Linked DNA regions of Homo sapiens: all the other regions are linked to region 5. Evidence: fine-mapped QTL for protein levels in blood plasma. A gene starts in region 5. Each other region holds a variant in brackets. All regions are shown on one strand. Distances are between the middles of the regions. Region 1 has its middle 23 kb from the start of TBC1D3F. Region 2 has its middle 13 kb from the start of SLFN11. Region 3 has its middle 45 kb from the start of SLFN11. Region 4 has its middle 56 kb from the start of SLFN5. Region 5 holds the start of CCL16 (C-C motif chemokine ligand 16).

What was found. PIP is the posterior inclusion probability: the model's chance that the variant is causal. The UK Biobank Pharma Proteomics Project read protein levels with antibody pairs (Olink). The fine-mapping took linkage between variants from a reference panel, not from the people measured, so its PIPs are less certain.
Region 1: its variant is fine-mapped to the plasma level of the CCL16 protein (UK Biobank, PIP above 0.99).
Region 2: its variant is fine-mapped to the plasma level of the CCL16 protein (UK Biobank, PIP above 0.99).
Region 3: its variant is fine-mapped to the plasma level of the CCL16 protein (UK Biobank, PIP above 0.99).
Region 4: its variant is fine-mapped to the plasma level of the CCL16 protein (UK Biobank, PIP above 0.99).

What each region holds. Positions count from the first base shown.
Region 1 is chr17:36,459,508-36,464,634 of GRCh38, reverse strand. No RefSeq gene overlaps it. Among named protein-coding and RNA genes, the nearest start is that of TBC1D3F, 23 kb to the right of the region's middle. The variant G/C (reference allele first, on the strand shown) is at 2,589.
Region 2 is chr17:35,384,000-35,389,126 of GRCh38, reverse strand. No RefSeq gene overlaps it. Among named protein-coding and RNA genes, the nearest start is that of SLFN11, 13 kb to the right of the region's middle. The variant G/T (reference allele first, on the strand shown) is at 2,824.
Region 3 is chr17:35,325,941-35,331,067 of GRCh38, reverse strand. No RefSeq gene overlaps it. Among named protein-coding and RNA genes, the nearest start is that of SLFN11, 45 kb to the left of the region's middle. The variant A/G (reference allele first, on the strand shown) is at 1,933.
Region 4 is chr17:35,296,454-35,301,580 of GRCh38, reverse strand. No RefSeq gene overlaps it. Among named protein-coding and RNA genes, the nearest start is that of SLFN5, 56 kb to the right of the region's middle. The variant G/T (reference allele first, on the strand shown) is at 2,519.
Region 5 is chr17:35,979,419-35,984,418 of GRCh38, reverse strand. It overlaps CCL16 (C-C motif chemokine ligand 16), which reads left to right and starts at 2,922. Exons shown (of 3, transcript NM_004590.4): 1 at 2,922-3,074. The coding sequence starts at 2,999. CCL14 (C-C motif chemokine ligand 14) reads left to right here. Exons shown (of 3, transcript NM_032963.4): 2 at 1-81; 3 at 531-1,131. The coding sequence ends at 618. CCL15-CCL14 (CCL15-CCL14 readthrough (NMD candidate)) reads left to right here. Exons shown (of 7, transcript NR_027922.3): 6 at 1-81; 7 at 531-763. RefSeq lists a silencer at 2,112-2,407 and an enhancer at 2,112-2,407.

The DNA of each region.
Region 1 (5,127 bases), 480 kb before region 5:
GGGGCCTGCCACATGGCCTCTGCGCCAAAAGAGTAGAGCCCAGGATGAGGGGCCCCTAGCCAGGCAGACCCAGCCCAGGAGGTTTTGGGTCTTGGGGCCTTGGGTGTGGACTGGTCCTAGATGAGCCCGCCAGGTTGGGTGCCACCGGCCTTGACGGGTTCAGGAGATGGGACGTTATGTCTAGACGCCGCCACGCTTTATCGCAAGCCCGGGCCTCATCTAGACCCCAAGGGGCACCCCAACCTGTTTAGGGTTCCCGGGACTCGTGCGCTTGCCCGCCTAAGGCGGTAAATTGCCATCGTCTCCAAAGGCCGCCCCCACTTCGTCCGCTCCCCACCCGCCCCCAACCCCAGGCTCAGAACCCGCCAGAGCAATCCAGGCCCGTTCTCTAGGTCAGAAATGCCGGCCCTGGGGTCATTTGTCCCTGTAGGGAGAGCGCCACCCGCTTGCCCCGGGGCGCTGTCCAAGCCGCGGTGCTGAAGCGCTCCGGGCCCTGACTCAGCGAACACACAGTCGTCACCGCGTGCAGCCGCCACTCCCCAGCCTGGGCCCGCTCCAGGCCGCGCCCACACCGGCTAATCATCCGCCCGGATGCACGTCTGCCTCATCAGGCTTAAACTAGAATCGCCTCGGAGGTTGGAGATTCCTGAGGAGGCCCAGAAAGGGCCAATGCTTGTCCCGGGCCAGGCAGCTGGGAGAGTGTGGAGCTCCATTCCTGAGCTCCATCCCGGATCCCGCAAGCAGCGGCTCACTCTGCCTGCTCCAGACCCGTCCCCTCCAGTGAGCCCAGAGGAGGGTCCACTCACTCTCGAAGAACGCATTCTTCCCACTGGCATCCAAGCCCAGCAGACCCTGCTACCTATGGGGTGGTGGGGGGGAGCGCAGTCAGACAATCCCTGGAATTGGTCCCGCACACCGCCAGCAGTGAAGATGCCTCTCTCCCTTATTTCTGGATGCCCCCCACAGCTTCTATGGATGCCCACAACCCCTTCCTCCCTCCACCCTCAATGTCCAAGCAGGCAAAGAAGACCGGGTGTCCCCAGTGAAGGGCTCTGCAGTGAGGGGTCTAGAATCTTGCCCTTGAAGGAGTAAATGATATCCCTCGAGTTGAGCGTGATCATGATGGCATGATATTGGGCCAGGCACTAGTCCAGCAAAGAGAGGCCAGAAGAAGCAGCCAGATGGCAGTGCTGGTGCCCAGAACCATGACCTGTCTTGCCCCAGGCCCCCACGGGTGACTTCTTAGAGTCGGCCAAGGATCAGTGCAGGCCAGGAGAGAGATGAGATAATAGTCAAGGCAAAAGGGTTTTGAGAGGATGTTCCAGGGGAGCAGAGCTAGCTGCCAGCACTCATTTGGTAGATACAAATGTCGTGTCCTGGTCTCTGGTCTCGGCAGATGTGTTCAATAACTCACGTCTGGCATCTCCAACTGCTAGGCCGTTCCATTTCGAGCTGTGGAGAGCATTCTGGCTAGACCCCGTGAGCAGGGCCCCAGGGGACTGGGCTCTGTGTCAGGGATGAGTTCACACTATGGCAAAGAGCAGGTGGTGGCCTCAGGGCTGTTGAGCTGTCCCAGAACAGGATTCTTTTCTTTTCTTTCTTTCTTTCTTTCTTTCTTTCTTTCTTTCTTTCTTTCTTTCTTTTCTTTTCTTTCTCTTTCTTTCTTTCTCTTTCTTTCTTTCTTTCTTCCTTCCTTCCTTCCTTCCTTCCTTCCTTCCTTCCTTCCTTCCTTCCTTCCTTTCTTTCTTTCCTTTTTTGAGATGGAGTCTCACTCTGTCACCCAGGCTGGAGTGCAGTGGCATGATCTTGGCTCACTGCAACCTCCATCCCACGGATTCAAGTGATTCTCCTACCTCAGCCTCCCAAGTAGCTGGGATTACAGGTGCCCACCACCATGCCCAGCTAATTTTTGTGTTTTTAGATAGACATGGGGTTTCGCCATGTTGGCCAAGCTGGTCTGCAACTCCTGACATCAAGTGATCCACCTGCCTCAGCCTCCCAAAGTGCTGGGATTACAGGCGTGAGCCACCTCGCCCAGCCCAGAATCAGGATTCTTAAAATGATTGTGCTGCATACTGAATCATGTTGCTTTTGACTCTTGTAGCTGGCCCCCTTCCTTCTCTAGGGTGCCTGCTGGTACACCCTGGATGATGTCTGAGACAGATGGTGCTGCTCAGCCCCTTGAGGGGCTGCTCTGCCCCATGGTTGAGGTGGACTGTCAACCATGGGGCAGGAAGATCTAACTCCCCTCCCTCATGGTCCTCACATTGTGGGTCCCCTGGCAATAGATAATAACAAGTGTCACCATGGACATTAGAGTGACCCCAAGAGACAGAAAAGGTGGGTATTAGTGAACACATTAGGGGAGACAGAAGGGCAGAGAGGGCACGGGACAGTCACCAAGACTCCTAATGACTAACTTCTTCAAACTTCTCAGCAACATCCTCTTCCCTGTCCCCTGCTCTCCACCTCATCCATCAAGGAGCTGATGCTAATGGGGTTCCCTTGTTCAGAGCCAGACTGCTATGGTTACTATGGTAGTTAACAAACAGCCACTCCAGGCTCTTAACAAAGTAATCCTCCTGGAG[G/C]GACAGAAGAGGGCTTCTGTGGCCCGAGGACCAACATGTTACCTCTTGGCTGGCTTGGCAGCCATGGCAAGGACATGAACAGCATCCACTGAGGAAAGGAGACTGCTGGGCACACCGTGGGGAGGGGCAGGAGCCTGGAGGAAGTGCAGATGTCGGGATTTGGCTGCCGGCCACACCTGCTGGGCCCTCAGGTCGTGAGACACAAAGTGTTGCTTTACCTTCTCATTGCGGTAGCCAATCCAGAGCTGTGACAGCAGTTGTTGGGGAAGAATGTGAATCCAAACGCATTCAGCAAGCCTGCTAGAATGGGAAAAACCCAGGGGGCCCTGGGAGAGGGTCTCCCTGAAGCCCAGGGTGGCAAGGCTCCCGCCAAATAGAATAATTCAGCATCTGTATAAACCAGAATAATTCTACCACCTGGATGACCTACAGTAAGGCTGAGGAACATCACACTGGGCAGTGCACAGAGCAAATGCAACCCTCCATACACCACCTGGAATGGTCCCCGTTTCCCATTCTGCTCTCTCTGTGAGCCTAGAACAGATGCAAAGGCCCAGTGGAGGATGAGGGGCAGCCCCAGCGCACCAAGGCCTACTTTTGAGTCTGTATTTTCTGGTCCTGTGTCTCTTAGGAGTAGCCCCTTCTGCTGGAACTTCTGAGCAGCTTTTTAATGCCTCATCCCCAGACAGGAAGAGATAGTCAAAGATTGTTAGCCTTTTTGAGGCCAGATGTGGTGGCTCATACCTGTAATCCCAGCACTTTGGGAGGCCGAGGCAGAAGGATCACTTGAGGCTAAGAGTTCGAGACCAGCTTGGCCAACATGGTGAAACCCCATCTCTACCAAAAATACAAAAATTAGCCAGGCATGGTGGCAGTCCTGTAATCCCAGCTACTCGGGAGGCTGAGGCACAAGAATCACTTGAACCCAGGAGGTAGAGGTTGCAGTGAGCCAAGTTTGTGCCACTGCACTCCGGCCTGGGCGACAGAGCAAGACTGTCTCAAAAAGACAAAAACAGAAACAAAATCAATTTGATGGAAAGAAAGAACTAGTCTAAGAAAAAGAAAGAGCTTTTAGAATTTAAACTGTTTAGCCAGGTGCGGTGGCTCACACTTATAATCCCAGAGCTTCTGAAGGCTGAGGTAGGAGGATCTCTTGAGACCAGCCTGGGCAACAAGTGAGACCCCATCTCTTAAGAAAAATGTTTTAAATAATTTAAGCTGTTTAATAAAAATTCAGTAGGATTGGAGGATAAAGTTGAAAAAATCTCCCAGGAAGTTAGCTGGAGGTAGGGGAAGGAGAATTGGAGTAAAAGAAAAGGAAGGAAGGAAGGAGACGAAAAGAGTTAGTTGATTAACTTCGTATTAGTAGAAATTCTAGGAAGAGAAAACAATAGGGAGGAAATTATTATAACGAATTTTTGTAAATCCCCAGAATGGAAGAGCATATGTTTACCAGCTGAAGGAACTGATACCACATATCCACATAATGCGTGAAAAAAATACCATAGAAAGCACAGCACTGGCAATTTTGAAAAATGCCTACAGGATAAACAAAAGATCCTAAAACTTCTGGGGGAAAAGAAGTCCACCCCCTAGGGACTAGATATTGTCACAGCAACACCGGAAGAATACAGAAGTAAACTTCAAATGTTGGAGGGAAAACTATCTCCATATGGAAGTACATATCTAGTCAAAATATTGATCAAATGTAAGAGTAGAAAAAAGATATCATTAGATGTTCAGGGTCTGAAAACTTTACCTTCCATGTACCTCTGCCAGGAAACTTCCAGAGAATGTACCTCACAAACGTAAAGAAGTGAACTAAAATGCAGAAGCTGTGAGACTCAGAAAAATGGGATGTCATGGGGTGGGAGTGGAGTGCCTGGGGACCCCATAAATGAAGGGGCAGAAACACTCATGCATGACAATTCATAGCAGGAACACGAGGCAGCCAGCCCAAACAGAAGCGGGAGGTCTGAGAGCTCCAGAAAGCCTGGGAGATGCCCTGGTCATTTCCCTGTCCCACCCTCCTACCCCTGGTGCCTCACCCAGGGCTGGCAAAGGAAGGGAGCTCAACTCATATGTGGATGATGGCAGATCCAGCGCACAGGCACGAATGAGTTCATGATGAAAGTGAAGTGCCAGGGCATGAGAGTGAAGTGCCGGGCAGGCAGTTCCCTCTGAGCAGCTGTGCCACTACCACTTGACACACACTACATGCTCCTGCAGCAGCCCTGTTGCTGCCACCAGACGCCCACACCACCCCGGGAGCCTCTGTCCTCGCCCAGCCAGTCCTCAGCATTGTCCCTACCTCCATGGGAACAGATATGAGAGGGATGCTGGTGAGCGGCAAGCAGGCTGCTCCAGCAAACCCTCTTTCATAAGTAACCCAGTTAACTTCTGAGGTGCCCTGAGCATCTGCTATGCTTGGCACCAAGTGCTTTATATGTGTACTTTTTAATCCACTGGGAGGCCATTTTATAGGGAGGGAGCTGAGGCTTGGGGTCTGAGGTGGGGGCACCAGGCTCCATCTCCTTCC
Region 2 (5,127 bases), 600 kb after region 5:
CCCCAGAGCTGTGGTGGGCAGCCCAGGAGTGCCAAGACAATCTACAGCCAGAACTCAAGTGGGAGAGGAGCTCACACTTTCAGAGCATTGAGAGAGAGCACAGCTGCAACTGTGAGGAAACACAAAAACCGCATAACCGAGCAAGAGTCTATTAACTGGCCAGTACGCTAAGCACCACCAACTGGACCACACCCCAAAGCTTCAGCACCAAAATACCTTGCTAACATACAATCCAGTCAAACCAAAGATAAGTCAGCTATACATAAAGACCCTGCACAAAGCCTTGACCTGTGAAAACATCCGGAAAAGAAGTCTTCTGAGTGTATTCAATCTACATCATAGTTAAAGGAACATCCACATGCAAAGATGAGAAAGAACCAACACAAGAACTCTGACAACTCAAATGGCCGGAGTATCTTATGTCCTCCAATCAACCACACTTAGTTCTCCAGCAAGGGTTTGTAACTAGGCTGAAATGGCAGAAGTATACTTTAGAACATGACAGGAACAAAGATCACTGAGATTGAGGAGACCAGCAAAACCCAATCTAATGAAACCAAGAATCACAATAAAACAGGAGCTGACAGATGAAATAGCCAGTATAATAAAGAATCTAACTGATCTGATAGAGCTGAAAAAACACACTACAATAATTTCACAATGCAGTGGCAAGTATTAACAGCAGAATAGACCAAGCTGAAGAAACAGTCTTGGAACTTGAAGACTGATTCTCTGAAATAAAGCAGTCAGACAAAAATAAAGAAAAAAGAATAAAAAGAAATGAATAAACCTCCCAGAAATATGAGATTATGTAAAGAGGCCAAATCTATGGGTCACTGGAATCCCTGAAAGGGGTGGGGAGAAAGCAAACAACTTGGAAAACATTTTTGAGAATATTGTCCAGGAAAACTTCCCTAACCTTGCTAGGGAGGCCAACAGTCAAATTCAGGAAATACAGAGAACCTCTGCAAGATTCTACACAAGAAGATTATCCCCAAGACCCATAATCATCAGGTTCCCCAAGAGAGAAATGAAAGAAAATATTTAAGGCAGCTAGAGGGAAAGCACAGGTCACCTCCAAAGGGAACCCCACCAGGCTAACAATGGACCTCTCAGAAGAAATCCTACAAGCCAGAAGAGATTGAGGGCCTGTATTTAACATTCTTAAAGAAAAAAATCTTCAACCAAGGGTTTAATATCCAGCCAAACTAAGCTTCCTCTGCAAAGAAGTAAGATCATTTGCATATAAGCAAATGTTGAGAGAGTTCATTACCACCAGACCTGCCTTAAAAGAGATCCTGAAAGGAGCACTAAATATGGAAAGGAGAGGCCATTACCAGCAAACAGAAAAACACATGTAAGTACTTAGACTAGTGACTCCATAAAGCAACCACACAAACAAGCCAGCATAATAACCAGCTAACAACACAATGACAGGATCAAATCTACACATATCAACTTGCTAACATACTAGCCTTGAATGTAAATGGGCTAAATGCCTCATTTAAGAGGCACAGGATGTCAAGCTGGATAAAAAAGCAAGAGCCAATGGTATTCTGTCTCCTGGACAACCATTTCTCAAGCACCCATTGGCTCAAAAAAAAAAAAAAAAAAAGGGATGGAGGAAAATCTACCAAGCAAATGGAAATCAGAAAAAAGCAGCAGTTGCAGCCCTAATATCAAACAAAACAGACTTCAAGCCAAAAAAGGTAAAAAAAATAAAAAAGAAGGGCATTACATAATGGTAAAGGGTTCAATTTAACTAGAAGACCTACCCATCCTAAATATATATGCAACCAACATAGGAGCATCCAGATTCATAAAGCAAGTTCTTAGAGACCTACAAAGAGACTTAGACTCCCACACAATAATAGTGGGAGACTTCAACATTCCACTGACAGTATTAGAAGATCATCAAGGCAGAAAATAAACAAAAATATTCAGGACCTGAACTCAATATTGGACCAAATGGATCTGATAGACCTCCACAGAACTCTCCACCCCAAAACAACAGAATATACACTTTTCTCATTGCTACGTGGCATGTACTCTATAACTGACCACCACACAATCAGACATAAAACAATCTATGACCAACTCACAGCCAATATCATACTGAATGGGCAAAAGCTGGAAGCATTCTCCTAGAAAACTTGCACAAGACAAGAAAGCCCTCTCTCACCACCCTTCTTCAAGATGGTATTGGAAGTCCTGGCCAGAGCAATCAGGCAAAGAAAGAAAGGGCATCCCAATAGCAAGACAGGAAGTCAAACTATCCCTGTTTGCAGATGACATAATTCTATGCCTAGAAAACCCCATAGTCTTGGCCTAAAAGCTCTCTTAGCTGATAAACAACTTCAGAAAAGTTTCAGGATACAAAACCAATGCACAAAAATCACTAGCATTTCAATACACCAACAACAGCCAAGATGAGAGGCACATCAGGAATGAAATCTCATTCACAATTGCCACCAAAAAATAAAATACCTAGGAATACACCTAACCAGGGAGGTGAAAGAGCTCTACAATGAGAATTACAAAACACTGCTTGAAGAAATCAGAGATGACACAAACAAATGTAAAAACATTCCATGCTCAAGAATTGAAAGAATCAGTATGATTAAAATGGCCATACTGCCCAAAGCAATTTACAGATTCAATGCTATTCCTATCCAACTACCAATGACATTTTTCACAGAACTAGAAAAAAAAACTTTAAAATTCATATCAAACTAAAAAAGAGCCCAAATGGCCAAAGCAGTCCTAAACAAAAAGAACAAAGCTGGAGGCATCACGTTACCCAACTTCAAACACTATTGTAGG[G/T]CTACAGTAACCAAAACAGCATGGACCTGGTACAAAAACAGACACACAGACCAATGGAACAGAGTAGATTCCAGAAATAATGCCATACACCTACAACCATCAGATATTTCACAAAGCTGATAAAAATAAGCAATGGGGAAAGGACTCCCTATTCAATAAATGGTCCTCGGATAACTGGCTAGCCATATATAGAAGATTGAAACTGGACCCTTTCCTTACACTATATACAAAAATCAACTCAAGAAGGATTAAAGACTTAAATGTAAAACCAAAACTATATAAACCCTGGAATACAACCTAGGCAACACCATTCTGGACATGGGAACTGGCAAAGATTTCCTGATGAAGATGCCAAAGGCAATCACAACAAAAGCAAAAATTGACAAAGGGGATCCAATTAAACCAAAGAGTTTCTGCACAGCGAGAGAAACTATCAACAGAGTGAACAGACAGCATAGAGAATGGAAGAAAATATTTGCAATCTATCCATCTAACAAAGGTCTAATATCTAGCATCTATAAGGAACTTAAACAAATTTACAAGAAAAAAACAACCCCATTAAAAAGTGGGCAGAGGACATGAACAGAAACTTTTGAAAAGAAGACACATTTGGCCATCAAGCAGATGAAAAAAATTCAATATTATTTGTCACTGGAGAAATGCAAATCAAAACCACAATGAGGGCCAGGCGCAGTGGCTCACACTGTAATTCCAGCTCTTTGGGAGGCTGAGGTGGGTGGATCACTTGAGGTCAGGAGTTCGAGACCAGCCTGGCCAACATAGTGAAACCCCATCTCTACCAAAAATACAAAAAATTAGCTGGGCATGGTGGTGCACGCCTGTAGTCCCAGCTACTCTGGAGGCTGAGACAGGAGAATTGCTTGAACTCAGGAGGCAGAGGTTGCAGTGAGCCAAGATCATGCCATTACATTCCAGCCTGGGTGACAGAGTGAGATCTATCTCAAAAAAACAAAAGCAAAAACAACATGATACCATCTCACACCAGTCAGAATGGCTATTATTAAAAAATCAAAAAATAACAGATGCTGGCGAGGTTATGGAGAAATGGGAACACTTATACACTTTTGGTGAGAGTGTATATTAGTTCAGCCATTGTGGAAAGCAGTGCGGCAATTCCTCAAAGAGCTAAAAACAGAACTACCATTTGACACAGCAATCCCATTACTGAGTATATACCCAAAGGAATATAAATCTTTCTACCATAAAGACACTGATGCGTATGTTCCTTGAAGCGCTATTCACAATAGCAAAGACATGGAATCAACCTAAATGCTCATCAATGGTAGACTGGACAAAGAAAATGTGATATATGTACACCATGGAATACAATGCTGCCATAAAAAAGAATGAGATCATGTCCTTTGCAGGATCATGAATGAAACTGAAGACCATTATCCTTAGCAAACTAATGCAGGAGCAAAAAACCAAATATGGCATGTTTTCACCTATAAGTGGGAACTAAATGATAAGAACAAATGGACACAAAGCGGGGAAGAACAGACACTGGGGCCTACTTGGGGCCTACTATAGCTGATGCTTTCTGGAAAGTGCAGCCTCCTGGAAGGAGGCCAACCACCACAAAAATAGAGCATTAAACCACCAAAGCTCAGGACCCTCATGGAGTCTGTTGCACCCTCTGCCACCTCCACCAGAACAGGCACTGGTGAGAGACCCATAGATGGTTCACATCACAGGATTCTGTGCAGACAAACCACAGTACCAGCTCAGAGCCGGGTAGACTTGCTGGGTGACTGGACCCAGAAGAGAGATAACAATCACTACAGCTCAGCTCTTAGGAAGCCACATCCTTAGGAAAATGGGGAGAGTACTATATCAAGGGATCACCCTGTGGGACAAAAGAATCTGAACAACAGCCTTCAGCCCTAGACCTTCCCTCTGACAGAGGCTACCAAAATGAGAAAGAACCAGAAAACCAACCCCAGTAATATGATGAAACAAGGCTCTTCAATACTCCCCAAAAATCACACTAGTTCACCAGCAATGGATCCAAACCAAGAAGAAATCCGATTTACCCAAAAAAAAAAAAAAAAAATTCAGGAGGTTAGTTATTGAGCTAATAAGGGAGGGACCAGAGAAAATCCCAGTGCAAGGAAATCCAAAAAATGCTAAAAGAAGTGAAGGGAGAAATATTCAAGGAAATAGATAGCTTAAAGAAAAAAAAATCAAAAATTCAGGAAACTTTGGACACACTTTTAGAATTGCAGAATGCTCTAAAAAGTCTCAGCAATAGAATTGACCAAGTAGATGAAAGAAATTCAGAGC
Region 3 (5,127 bases), 650 kb after region 5:
TATAGCACTAAATGCTCACAGGAGGAAGCGGGAAAGATATGAAATAGACACCCTAACATCACAATTAAAAGAACTAAGATCAGAGTAGAAATTTAGAGAAGTGAGAGCAAACAAATTCAAAAGCTAGCAGAAGACAAGAAATAACTAAGAGCAGAGTAAAACTGAGGGAGATAGAGACATAAAAAAACCCTTCAAAAAGTCAATTATTCCAGGTGCTGGTTTTTTGAAAAAATTAACAAAATAGATAGATGGCTAGCCAGACTAATAAAGAAGAAAAGAGAGAAGAATCAAAACACAATAAAAAATGATAAAGGGGATATCACCACTGATCCCACAGAAATACAAATTACCATCTGAGAATACTATAAACACCTCTATGCAAATAAACTCAAAAATCTAGAAGAAATGGATAAATTCCTGGACACATACACCCTCCCAAGATTAAACCAAGAAGAAGTCAAATCCCTGAATAGACCAATAACAAGTACTGAAATTGAGGCAGTAATTAATAGTCTACCAATAAAAAAAAAAAAGCCCAGGACCAGACGGATTTACAGCCGAATTCCACCAGAGGTACAAAGAGGAGCTGGTGCCATTACTTCTGAAACTATTACAAACAAAACAGAAAGAAGGAATCCTCCTTAACTCATTTTATGAGGCCAGCATCATCCTGATACCAAAACCCGGCAGAGACACAACAAAAAAAGAAAATGTCAGGCCAATATCCCTGATGAACATTGAGGCTAAAATCCTCAATAAGATACTGGCAAACCAAATCCAGCAGCACATCAAAAAGCTTAACCACCACGATCAAGTCAGCTTTATACCTGGGATGCAAGGCTGGTTCAACATACACAAATCAATAATCGTAATCCATCACATAAACAGAATCAATGACAAAAACCACATGATTATCTCAAGAGATGCAGAAAAAGCCTTCGTTAAAACCCAACACCCCTTCATGCTAAAAACTCTCAATAAACTAGGTATTGATGGAACATATCTCAAAATAATAAGAGTTATTTATGACAAACCCACAGCCAATGTCATACTGAATGGGCAAAAGCTGGAAGCATTCCCTTTGAAAACCAGCACAAGACAAGGATGCTCTCTCACCACCCCTATTCAACATAGTGTTGGAAGTTCCGGCCAGGGCAATCATGCAAAAGAAATAAAGCGTATTCAAATAGGAAGAGAGGGAGTCAAACTGTTTCTGTTTGCAGATGACATAATTGTATATTTCAAAAAACCCATTGTCTCAGCCCAAAATATCCCTAAGCTGAAAAGCAAATTCAGCAAAGTCTCAGGACACAAAATCAATATGCAGAAATCACAAGCATTTCTACACACTGACAACAGGCAAACAGAGAGCAAAATCATGAGTGAACTTCCAATCACAACTGCTACAAAGAGAATAAAATACCTAGGGATATAACTTACAAGGGATGTGAAGGACCTCTTCAAGGAGAACTACAAACCACTGCTCAAGGAAATAAGAGAGGACACAAATGAATGGAAAAACATTCCATGCTCATGGATAGGAAGAATCAATATCATGAAAACGGCCATCCTGCCCAAAGTAATTTATAGTTTCAATGCTATCCCCATCAAGCTACTGTTGACTTTCTTCACAGAATTAGAAAAAACTACTTTAAATTTCATATGGAACCAAAAAAGAGCCCGTATAGCCAAGACAATCTTAAGCAAAAAGAACAAAACTGGAGGCATCAAGCTGCCCAACTTCAAACTATACTACAATTGCTACAGTAAGCAAAACAGCATGGTACTGCTACCAAAACAGATATATAGACCAATGGAACAGAACAGAGGCCTCAGAAATAATGTCACACATCTACAACCATCTGATCTTTGACAAATCTGACAAAAACAAGCAATGGGGAAAGGATTCCCTCTTTAATAAATGGTGTTGAG[A/G]AAACTGGCTAGCCATAAGCAGAAAACTGAAACTGGACCCCTTCCTTACACCTTATACAAAAAGTAACTCAAGATGGATTAAAGACTTAAACCCAATACCTAAAACCATAAAAACCCTGGAAGAAGTCCTAGGCAATATCATTCAGGACACAGGCATGGGCAAAGACTTCATGACTAAATCACCAAAAGCAATGGCAACAAAAGCGAAAATTGACAAATGAGATCTAATTAAACTAAAGAGCTTCTGCACAGCAAAAGAAACTATCATCATAGTGAACAGGCAACCTACAGAATGGGAGAAAATTTTTGCAATCTATCCATCTGACAAAGGGCTAATATCCAGAATCTACAAAAAACTTAAACAAATTTGCAAGAAAAAAACAAACGACCACATCAAAAAGTGGGCAAAGAATGTAAACAGGCACTCCTCAAAAGAAGACATTTATGCAGCTGACAAACATATGAAAAAAAGGTCATCATCACTGGGTCATTAGAGAAATGCAAATCAAAACCGCAATGTGATACCACCTCATGCCAGTTAGAATGGCGATCATTAAAAAGTCAGGAAACAACAGATGCTGGAGAGGATGTGGAGAAATAGGAACGCTTTCACACCGTTGGTGGGAGCATAAATTAGTTCAACCATTGTGGAAGACGGTGTGGCAATTCCTCAAGGATCTAGAACCAGAAATACCATTTGACCCAGCAATCCCATTACTAGGTATATACCCAAAACATTATAAATTATTCTACCATAAAGACACATGCACACGTATGTTTATTGCAGCACTGTTCACAATAGCAAAGACCTAGAACCAACCCAAATGCCATCAATGATAGCCTGGATAAAGAAAATGTGGCACATGTACACCATGGAATACTGTGCAGCCATAAAAAGGATGAGTTCATGTCCTTTGCAGGGATATGGATGAAGCTGGAAACCATCATTCTCAGCAAACTAACAGGAACAGAAAACCAAACATTACATGTTCTCACTCATAAGTGGGAGTTGAACAATGAGAACACATGGACACAGAGAGGGGAACATCACACAACGGGGCCTGTTAGGGGGTGGGGAGCTAGGGGAGGGATGTATTAGGAGAAATACCTAGTGTAGATGATGGGTTGATGGGTGCAGCAAACCACCATGGCACGTGTATACCTATGTAACAAACCTTCACATTCTGCACTTGTATCCCAGAACTTAAAGTATAATAATAAAAAAAAGCACAAAGAGGGACATTATATAATGATAAAAGGCTTTGTCCAACAGGAAACTATCACAATACTAGACATACATTCACCTAACACTGGAGGTCCCAAATTTATGAAACAATTACTAATAGATCTAAGAAATGAGATAGACAGCAACAAAGTAACACTGAGGAACTTCAATACTCCGCTGACAGCACTAGACAGGTCATTAAGACAGAAAGCCAACAAAGAAACAATGGATTTAAACTACACCCTGGAACAAATGGACTCAACATATATATACAGAACATTCCATGCAACAACTGCAGAATACACATTCTATTCAACAGCACATGGAACTTTCTCCAAGATAGACCATATGATAGCCACAAAATGAGCCTCAATAAATTTAAGAAAATTGAAATTATATCAAGCACTCTCTCAGGCCACAGTGGAATAAAACTGGAAATAAACTTCAAAAGGAACCTTCAAAACCATGGAAATTAAATAACCTGCTCTTGAATGAACATTGGGTCAAAAATGAAATCAAGATGAAAATTTAAAAAGTCTTCGAACTGAATGACAATAGTGACACAACCTATCAAAACCTCTGAGACACAGCAAAGGTGATGCTAAGAGGAAATTTCATCGTCCTAAATGCCTACATCAAAAAATCTGAAAGAGCACAGGCAATCTAAGGTCACACCTCAAGGAACAAGAGAAACAAGAACAAATCAAACCCAAACCCAGAAGAAAGGAAGGAAATAACCAAGATCAGAGCAGAACTAAATGAAATTAAAACAAAAAAATACAAAAGATAAATAAAACAAAAAGCTAGTTCTTTGAAAAGATAAATAAAATTGATATACCATTAGCAAGATTAACCAAGAAGAGAGAAAATCCAAATAAGCTCAGTAAGAAACGAAACGGAAGAGATTACAACTGACACCACAGAAATGTGAAAGATCATTCAAGGCTACTATGAACACCTTTGCATGCGTAAACTAGAAAACCTAGAAGAGATGGATAAATTCCTGGAAAGACACAACCCTCCTAGCTTAAATCAGGAAAAATTAGATGTCCTGAACAGACCAATAACAAGCAGTAAGATTGAAATGGTAATTTAAAAATTACCAACAAAAAAAAGGGTCCAGGACCAGACGGATTCACAGCAGAATTCTACCAGACATTCAAAGAAGAATTGGTAACAATCTTTTTGACACTATTCCACAAGACAGAGAAAGAGAGAACCCTTCCTAAGTCATTCTATGAACCTAGTATCTCCCTAATACCAAAACCAGGAAAGGACATAATCAAAAAGAAAACTACAGACCAATATCCATAAAGAACATTAGATGCTAAAATCCTTAACAAAATTCTAGCTAACCAAATTCAAGAACATATCAGAAAGATAATCCACCATGACCAAGTGGGTTTCATACCAGGGATGCAGGGATGGTTTAATATATGCAAGTCAATAAATGTGACACAGCTGGGTGCGATGGCTCACCCCTGTAATCCCAGCACTTTGGGAGGCCGAGGTGGGTGGATCACCTGAGGTTGAGAGTTCGAGACCAGCCTGACCAACATGGAGAAACCTCATCTCTACTAGAAAAAAATTACAAAATTAGCCAGGCATGGTGGTACATGCCTGTAATCCCAGCTACTCGGGAGGCTGAGGCAGGAGAATCGCTTGAACCCAGGAGGCAGAGGTTGCGGTGAGCCAAGATTGGGCCATTGCACTCCAGCCTGGGCAACAAGAGCAAAACTCTGTCTAAAAAAAAAAAAGTGATACATCACATAAACAAAATTAAAAACAAAAACCATGTGATCATCTCAATAGATGCAGAAAAAGCATTTGACAAAATCCAGCATCACTTTACTATTAAAACTCTCAGCAAAATTGGCATATAAGAGATATACCTCAATATATTAAAAGCCATCTATGACAAAGTCACAGCCAACATAATACCGAGTGGGGAAAAGTTGAAAGCATTCCCT
Region 4 (5,127 bases), 680 kb after region 5:
TACGGTAGCTTTGCTGAGCTGCAGTGGGCTCCACCAAGTTCAATTTCCCAGAGGCTTTGTTTACACTGTGAGGGGAAAACCACCTACTTAAACCTGAGTAGTGGTGGACCCCCCTCCCCCCACCAAGCTCACACATCCCAGGTCAACTTTAGACTGCTGTGCTGGCAGAGAGAATTTCAAGGCAGTGGATCTTAGCTTGCTGGGCTCCATGGGGGGTGGGATCTGCTGAGCTAGACCCCTTGGCTCCCTGGCTTCAGCCCCCTTTCCAGGGAAGTGAATGGTTCTATCTTGCTGGGTTCCAGGTGCCACTGGGGTATGAAAAAAACTCCTGCAGCTAGCTCAATGTCTGCCCAAATGGCTGCCTGGTTTTGTGCTTGAAATCCAGGGCCATGGTGGTGTAGGCACCCGAAGGAATTTCTTGGTCTGAAGGTTGCAAAGACCATGGGAATAGCATAGTATCTGGGCCAGAATGTACCATTCCTCATGGCCCAGTCCCTCATGGCTTCCCTTGGCTAGGGGTGGGAGTTCCCTGACCCCTTGTGCTTCCCAGAAGAGGCAACGCCCCATCCTGCTTTGGCTTACCCTCCATGGGCTGCACCCACTGTCCAACCAGTCCCAGTGAGATGAGCCATGTACCTCAGTTGGAAATGCAGAAATCACCTGACTTCTGCTCTGATCTCACTGGGAGCTGCAGACTAGAGCTGTTCCTATTCATCCATCTTGTCCATACTCTCCCTTTTATAAAATTTTTCATGACTTACACAGACAATCTCTGACATGCCTTGACTTTCTGACTTGTAAACATCCCTCTCCTTAAACAACCAGTTAATTTACTTTAGGACAAGAATTTACCATATAAGATTCTTTTTTATATAAATTTTCCTTTTCTTTTTTTTTTTTTGAGACAGAGTCTTGCTCTGTCACCCAGGCTGGAGTGCAGTGGCGCGATCTCAGCTCACTGCAATCTCTGCCTCCTGGGTTCATGCCATTCTCCTGCCTCAGCCTCCCGAGTAGCTGGGACTATGGGCACCTGCCACCACACCTGGCTAATTTTTTGTATTTTTAGTAGAGACGGGGTTTCACCATGTTAGCCAGGATGGTCTCAATCTCCTGACCTCGTGATCCACCTGCCTCGGCCTCCCAAAGTGCTGGGATTACAAGCGTGAGCCACTGTGCCTGGCCATAAATTCTTTTTTCTTTAATATCAAGATTAGAAGTTAGGGTATTTCACTAAATAGTTCAAGATGTAGCTATCTTTATTAAACCAATATTAATGTTTCATTGATTAAAAAATTACAGAAGCAAAGATTATTCTGTTTGGGCTGAGTTATAGTTTTGTGGCCTCTATGCAAAATTTTCACATCTTATAGTATTTGGCAGAGATAACTATGAAATTGCTTGATTAATAAATGCAAACAAAAATGTATGCTGGAAACTTTTAAGACATTTCTAATCTTACTGTACTAGTAAGTTTTAAAGATTAAAGTCACATGAACTGAAAGGTCCCACAGCTTTTACTTTTCTGTTAAAAATATTTGATTTAAGTGCTTATTTTTCTTAGGTCAATTAATTAGAGCTTTTTAAATAGGCATTGCACACATAACACATACATAGCCACACAGACAACCAGAAGAAGATCCAGTAATTAGAATTTTTTTTTTTTTTGCCCCTTTCCCAATTGGATCACTGGCCTTTGGGTGAGACCCTTTAAGAACAGGGCTATGAAAACAGTTTCCAGGGCCTAATAAACAAGCATAGCTGGAAGACAAAGACAGATTTTGAGAGGTACTTATTCATCTTTAATTCCAGGGGTTCCATAAGGAAAACAGATTTTTTCCCAAAACGGGATTTGTGGCAGCTTTTCTGTTTTCCCAAGGAGTCCCAGGCCACCAGAAGTCATTTTGGGATTTTTCATATATGCACCAAGAGTGGTAAGACAGAGTGGAGAAAAGTAATTCAGTTGACTGGGGAAAAAAACCTTTTCCAGGAAAACAAGATTTATGAAGAGAAAAACATAAAGGCCTTTTGAATATACTCATAGCTTGAATATTCATTTTAATTAAATTGAGAGCTGTTTTTCATCAGGGGTGAGGGTGGAGGTTAGAATTATATAAATATGCCATGTTAAATTAAAGGATTGGGTTATGTGCAGGAATTCCCTGCACTAGTCAGGGGGATTTTCAGAGAAAGATCCCAGGCACTGTTTGATCTGCGACAAATCAGATGTGGAGAAAGGGCATGAATGGGAGCAATGCCTTCAACCGCAGCCACTTCCTGGAGACGGAGAATGGCAGGGTGGTTTGACTGGTTGGAGCAGTTTTTGAATGGGTAACAGATGGAGAAGGAGAAGGAGCAGGGTTTGGAGCTGAAAGCTTGCGGGCAGGAGGCGTCACTGAAGTGGAGGATTCAGATAGGTTGAGGAGCAGATGCAGGGGGATAAGAATATGGAGGGGGTTCATCTGCAGGGTCAAAGGGGTTTTGGAGGAAGGAGTTTCAGAGAAAGGAGAGACCTGGGGAA[G/T]GTTATCATTAAGAAGAAAGACTTCATGAGGGGTGCAAGTTTGACACAGGGAGGGTTGGGATCTAAAGTAAAAGAAAGCCTGAATATAGGGAACCTCCTGCCATTTGCTGTTCCTAGTTATAAAGTTGTCAAGGTCCCTGAGAATTTGAAAGTCAAAGGTGCCATTTTCAGGCTACCAGCTGTCATTATCTAATTTGTATTGGGGCCAGGCCATGTTGCAATAAAAAAGCATACTCTTTGGCTTTATGCTTCCTTTAAGCCAAGCTTAGCAACATTGTGAAGGAGACAGCCCAATGGAGAGGACTTAGGAAAGTGGGATTGTTTGGCACCCATGTGGACTGGTAAGAGGAAGCTGAAGGTGTCTGTTTTTGTTCTAGGCATCCACAGATAAAAGACAGAAACCTGGAATCCTCTTTATAAAGAGGATGATCAAGCTGCGAAGAAACTGGGCATCTCCAAGATTTCTTCTAGCTTAGTCCCACTGGTCCTCTGAGGACCGGGACAGCTGACCTGACTCTCCCAGGTGCTGTGAGAAAGTCAGGAGAGGGCAGATCTTACTAGTCAGCTGGATTAGTGTCCGATGTTGGATGTTCTGATTGGAATTGGCAAAGGGCCCCTTGGACTAGAGCTTCACAAGGAAGAGAGGGAGAGAGAGACAGAGAGAGAGAGAGAGAGAGAGAGAGAGAGAGAAGAGGATGAGGGAGGAGGGAAGAGAGCAAAATACCCATTGTGGGCAGCCAGAGGTGGATTCCTAAGACCTGAGGGCTTTGAGGGTTCACTGGAGATTTGCCCCAGCCTGAGCCTCACAGTCCCCTTCAGGTTAGTTGTCCTCCTCAGACAAATTGCTAGAAAAGTGAAGTGAGAGACAAGACAAGATGGGTGGCCAGAGACTCTCAGGATCCAGCAGGATGAGCAGCTGCTGTCCACTGCTTTTTGGGTTGCAGGAGAACCTCTACCCCCAGCACCCATCCTGAGTTTTGGCAGCAAATGTAAGAGTTAAAGAAAGAGGAAAGAAACACGAAAAGTGACTCACCAGTCAAAGACAGGTTTATTTTGGAGAATAAACCTGAGAGGGGCTTCTGGCTGATTTTGGTCAGGAGCACACTCTCTTACAGATTAAGCGTATTTGTTGATTTTAGGGTGAGAGAGCTTATCATAGGCTTGGAATGTTTCTTTGTGGGGAAGAAGTTTATTGTGGGTTTGGAATGTCTCTGGTAGGAGGGGAGGTTGTCTTGGGGCTGACATCTCTCTGGGGAGGGGTTTATCTTATGGTTGAAATGTTTCTGGTCAGAGATGTCATTTATGGTTTATGGTCATGCTGGCCTTAGCCTTTAGGCTGATGCCCTGTGGATTTAGGTGGTTTTTGATTAAGGGGAACTTTAGAATGGTGGTGTTTGTCCAAGATGGTGATGCTCCTGTTCTGTCAAAGTCCCTAGGCTGCACACAGCACAGGGATCCTCTGTCCAGCCCAGGAAACTACTTTTTCCTCCTGGGCCTCCAGACCTGTGATGGGAGGGGCTGCTGTGAAGGTCTCTGACATGGCCTAAAGACATTTTCCCCATGGTCTTGGGGATTAACAGTAGGCTCCTCACTGCTTATGCAAATTTCTGCAGCTGGCTTGAATTTCTCCCCAGAAAATGGGGTTTTCTTTTCTATTGCATAGTCAGGTTGCAAACTTTCCAAACTTTTATGCTCTGCTTCTGTTATGAAATTGAATGCCTTTAACAAGTCACCTCTTGAATGCTTTGCTGCTTAGAAATTTCTTCCACCAGATACCCTAAATCATCTTTCTCAAGTTCAAAGTTTTACAAATTTCTAGGGCAGGGGCAAAATGCCACCAGCCTCTTTGCTAAAACATAACAAGATCCACCTTTACTCCAGTTCCCAACAAGCTCCTCATCTCCATCTGAGACCACCTCAGCCTAGACCTTATTGTCCATATCACTATCAGCATTTTGGTCAAAGCCATTCAACAAGTCTCTAGGAAGTTCCAAACTTTCCCACATTTTCCTGTCTTCCTCTGGGGCTTCCAAACTGTTCCAACTTCTGCCTGTTACCCAGCTCCAAAATCACTTTCACATTTTCTGGTATCTTTTCAGCAATACCCCTCTACTGGTAACAATTTACTATATTAGTCTGTTTTCATGCTGCTGATAAAGACATACCCAAGACTGGGAAGAAAAGGAGGTTTATTGGGACAGTTCCACATGGCTGGGGAAATCTCAGAATCATGGCGGGAAGTGAAGGCACTTCTTACATGGTGGTGGCAAGAGAAAATGAGCTAGAAGCAAATGAGGAAACCCCTGATAATCCCATCAGATCTCATGAGACTTATTCACTATCATGAGAATAGCATGGGAAAAGACGGCCTCCATCATTAAACTACCTCTCCCTGGGTCCCTCCCATAACATGTGGGAATTCCGGGAGATACAATTCAAGCTCAGATTTGGATGGGGACACAGCCAAACCATATCAATGACTGTACTAATTTACATTTCCTCCAACAGTGTACAAGAGTTTTCTTTTTTCCTCATCCTCTCCAACACTTGTTTTCATTCATCTTTTTTGTAATAGTCAATCTAACAGCATGAGGTGATATATTATTGTG
Region 5 (5,000 bases):
CTACACTACCTACAAGATCCCGCGTCAGCGGATTATGGATTACTATGAGACCAACAGCCAGTGCTCCAAGCCCGGAATTGTGTAGGTGGTACACACACATCACACTGGGGGGAGAGGGAGCCAGCAGGGCCTCCTGGAGGGAAGCAGGGAGTGGTGGTGGAATGGGGACCCCCAGCGTACCTCCCAGGTGTGACTACATGGGGAGAGGCAGCTGAGGGGCAATCTGAGCGCTTTCTGGCTGGAGCCTGCAGGAGCCATGGGGAAACTGACCCCATGGATGGGGAGATGACAGAGAAGGGAGAAGAAGGCAAGAGGGCACTTCCTCAGGGGGACACAGAGACTAGATGGGTCTAGGGGTCCTAGGAACCGAAGAGTATGTCTCAGAGAGGAGACTGGCTCTAAGCTGCCTCTGTGGAAGAAAGGAAAAGCAGTATAGGTCAGGTGGGGAATTTAGGAGGGAGGGAAGATGGGCTGTCTCTTCCGGCCACTGGGCCCCTCGGTTTGTGATCCTTCTCCCTCTTGCTCCACAGCTTCATCACCAAAAGGGGCCATTCCGTCTGTACCAACCCCAGTGACAAGTGGGTCCAGGACTATATCAAGGACATGAAGGAGAACTGAGTGACCCAGAAGGGGTGGCGAAGGCACAGCTCAGAGACATAAAGAGAAGATGCCAAGGCCCCCTCCTCCACCCACCGCTAACTCTCAGCCCCAGTCACCCTCTTGGAGCTTCCCTGCTTTGAATTAAAGACCACTCATGCTCTTCCCTGGCCTCATTCCTTTCTACGGGATTTACTCATTGGCCATGCACTGAGGACACCAGGGTGTGGCACCCTCGGCATCAAGCCTCGCTCTGCAGAAGTTTTGCTGGAGCCTGGTACAAAAAATAGGTCAGGCCTGCAATGCAGGTAGTGAGAAGCAGAAAGTGAGAAAGAAAAGCAGTGTAAAGACCGTCTCCTCCTCAGCAACAACAGTAGCAGACCCCGTTTTCTTAATGCTTTCTATACTCCAAGCACTCTGCTAGGCAGTCTGTATGCATTATCTTATTTAAGCTTCATGACAAGTGTAAAAGCTACAAATCATCATTTGATTTTTTAGGTAACACTTCATAAAGGGCTCTCTATAGCAGTCAAACTCCATAGTCCTTTTTTCTGTGCTGTTTTCAAGGCCTTTCTTCACTGCTGTCTGGAATAGGAATGATGCATGAAGACATTTTATCCAACCCCTCCCCTTCGCTTACACACATCAGATTATACTATATTGTTTTACTAACTTTTTTATCCCCTAGAAGGCTTAGCAGAAAGCCTAGCCCATACCAGGTGTTCAGGAAATGGATGGATGGATGGATGGATGAAGGAAGGGAAGAATGTGTGGATGGAAGGATGAAGGGAAGGAGGAATGGATGGAGGGAGGGAAGCAGGGAGGGATGAAGGGAGGGAGGAAGGGAGGAAGGGAGGGAGGAAGGGAGGGAGGGATGGATGGATGGATGGAGAGAAAGAGGGAGGGAGGGATAGAGGGACAGATGGAATAAGACAGAAATCAAGAGGAGGACTATGCTCCAAGAATAAGCTCTCAAACCTATCTTCAGGGCCCAAGGAGGAGCTCTGTGTACTTGGAATAAGAGCTTGCCCAGAGTAGGGATTATGACCACCCTTTCCTGGCCTCCAGCCTTCCACAGATAAGGAAGGGCTTGTGGGCCACATTAAGGGCCATATGGGGGCCTGCATGCCAAAGTCACAACCAGGCTTCTCAGGCCTTGTCACCTCCATAAACAGAGGTCAAGAGGATGCCCCACATACGTACCCTCCCTGCCCTCACAAAAAGCCACAGCTTCACCACCAGGTGAAGCCTTGAACCCACCAGGAGTAACTGCATTATACGGTTTACCTATCTATGAGCAGTCATGCCAAGCAGAAAGCCCCATAAGGATCTGCACAGTCCCTGTTTCTGCCCCTGCCTCCCACTGCCCTCAACACCTGAAACACATCACCTATGCCTCTAAAGCTTGCTGTCCATCAACAGCAAAATCCCTTATATCTTTGATCTCTTCTCTAAATGCAGCTTTCAACATGGAAAAGGGTCCTGAGGCACCTGAAGAGAGAGGAAGCTGTGGGACAGGTCCAGCCAGAGCCCAGGCCAGAGGGGCAGAAGCTGGAGTCCTGGAGCACAGACGCAGGTTGTCAGGTGCACAGAGTTGGAGGGTCCCCTGCTGGTCATGGTTGGCCATGGGGGCACCCAGGAGGGATCAGCGAGCTGGCTACACCTAAAAATCAGTCCAAAGTCCGAGGTCCAAAGAGATAAATAAAAACATTGACAAATAAGTCAAACGGTCCAGCAACAAATGGGGACCCAAGGATCAGGCACATTGTTTTTTTTTTTTTTTGGAGTATTAGCATACACTGTGACAGGAAAGAGTGTGAGCTCAATCATGTGGCCTTGGACTGGGAGAGGGCATTTCCTTCTCAGAGGCAACTAAGCCCTACCTTTGCCTCAGTCTGGGCTCTGTAATCCTGCTTTGTGCTCATCTCCCCAAGACTGATCACCTGGGGGAAGCTGGGGTGGTTCAACCCTGCCTGCCCTTCCCCAACATACAGATGGTGGCAGGTAACATGGTGAAATCAAACAGATCTGGTTTTTCATCCGCCTATCCACCCAGGTGACCTTGGACAATTTATTTAGCCTCTAGGCCTCAGTAGTCCCAGGGAAGTAATAATCGCTATTCACTATTTTAAGGATTATATAAGATAGGGCATGTAAGGTAGCTGACACACATTCGCCCATTTCTTCACGTGAATTCAGATTCTACTGAATTCAGCTCTGCACCAAGTCCCATCCTCTGCTGCCCTCTGTTTCAGCAAACACTGAGGCCTGTTGTTTCTCCTCCTCTACCGGCTCTGATGCGGTCAAGGTCCAGAGAGCTGAGTAGTTGGCAAGCGGACCACCAGCAACAGACAACATCTTCATTCGGCTCTCCCTGAAGCTGTACTGCCTCGCTGAGAGGATGAAGGTCTCCGAGGCTGCCCTGTCTCTCCTTGTCCTCATCCTTATCATTACTTCGGCTTCTCGCAGCCAGCCAAGTGAGTCCACTTGTCTCTGTAGGGCAGGAACGAGAAAGGGGGATGGAGCAGCTGGCAGGGAGGTAGTGCCAAGGGCGCTGTCGGGTCTCTGGCCTCATAAGACCCTGTGGGCTCTCCCCACCTTCATGCATAGCTTCTGACCTCCAATTCTCCCCTTTGTAAGTAGAGCTGGGGTTGGTCCGGATCTTTCTGGGGTAAGTAGTTCCAGGAAACTGGGTCACCATTTCCTCAGGAGTCCCAAGCGTGGTGAGCAGGAATGATCATTCAGGAGGAGAGGCCAAGAAAGCAGCAGAAAATGCAACAAGAAGTGCATGCAATGAAAGGGAGGGGGAGGCACGCGGATGAGAAAGAAAAGTGGCAGGTGCCCTGGAAGAATGAGTGGCGAGAGGAAGGAAGGTTCAAACAATCATGTGGGTCTAAGTCCAGGAATTGGGAGTCTGAACCGAGAGAGCCCTTCCTCAACATGGCTGGCACAGGTTGCTGGGACTATCAGACAACCAAAATGAGTCCCAGTGGAATGGCTGCTTGGGAATCTATGGTCCCCTTCTCCATCCCCCAGCCTATGACTAAATAAAATCTGCAGAAAAGAGGAAAGGGGTTGAAAGGTTTTGGAGCTGTGGGGAAAGGGAGAATTGGGGCCTATGGAGGAGGGGGTTTGTTTTGCCCCTCCGTATCTCCTCCCTCTATCATTGTTTACGAGGACCTGGTGACGGGGGTGGGGAGGACAAAGACGTGTACCTGCCCTAGGCTGCCCCAGCCATTCTTTTCGCTTTTGTTTTTTTGTTTGTTTGCTTGTTGTGTTTTGTTTTGTTTTGTTTTGTTTGTGATGGAGTTTCGCTCTTGTTGCCCAGGTTGGAGCGCAGTGTCGCGATCTCGGCTCACCACAACCTCCGCCTCCCGAGTTCAAGTGATTCTCCTGCCTCAGCCTCCTGAGTAGCTGGGATCACAGGCACACACCACCACGCCCAGCTAATTTTTGTATTTTTAGTAGAGACGGGGTTTCACCATGTTGGTCAGGCTGGTCTCAAACTCCTGACCTCGTGATCTGCCCACCTCGGCCTCCCAAAGTGCTAGGATTACAGGTATGAGCCACCATGCCTGGCCTCTTTTCTCTCTTAAGGTCACCCTGGCATGTAGTCTGGCCTGACTCTGCCTGTGTAAACACAAAGGAGCAAGGGTCAAGTGCACCATGTAATCTGCCCACATACTCTCAGGATGACCCTGGTCTTTGTAAACTTTGCTTTGAGAACCAGTGATATGAGCATCACTTACAGAGGGACTGTGTGGGAGGGGGGAACAGTGCTCTTTGGGAGAGTCAATCAGGCCAGTGCAGTGGGTTCAGGCTTCAAGAAAGAGAAAATGGCCCACCCAAAGCATGGATCAGCAAGATGGTGCTCTCAAGATGTCCCAAGCTTTGCCACTCACTGGAGGCAAAGGGGTCAAGCTACAAAAAGATTTGCACTCTGAAGGTTTGGGGGCTGGGAGAGATCTCTGGACTGACCTCTTGTGTAGTATCCCCAATTGATGGGTAGTCAGGACAGCTCAAAGGAAACACAGTGACAATAACCAATCAAGTCCAGTATCCTGCATACATCAAAGAGATGGGGGGAAGCGCCATTTCCAAGGCAAGAAGAGCAGTCATTACTACCATTGGCTCTTAATTATAATAAGCACTGATTGAGCCTTTCTGTGTGCCAGGCTCTGAGTTAAGGGCTTTCCAATCATTTTCTCACCGAATTCTAACCATGATCCTAGGATACAAGTAAGTATCATTTACCCCCACTTAATAGATGAGGAAACTGAAACCTAGGGAGATTAAGAAATTTGCCCATGATTCAAGTCAAAATTCAAATCAAGTCAAAATTCCAACCCAAGCTGTCTGACCCCAAAGCCTAAATCATATACTTTTTCCTCCTGCTCTAACTT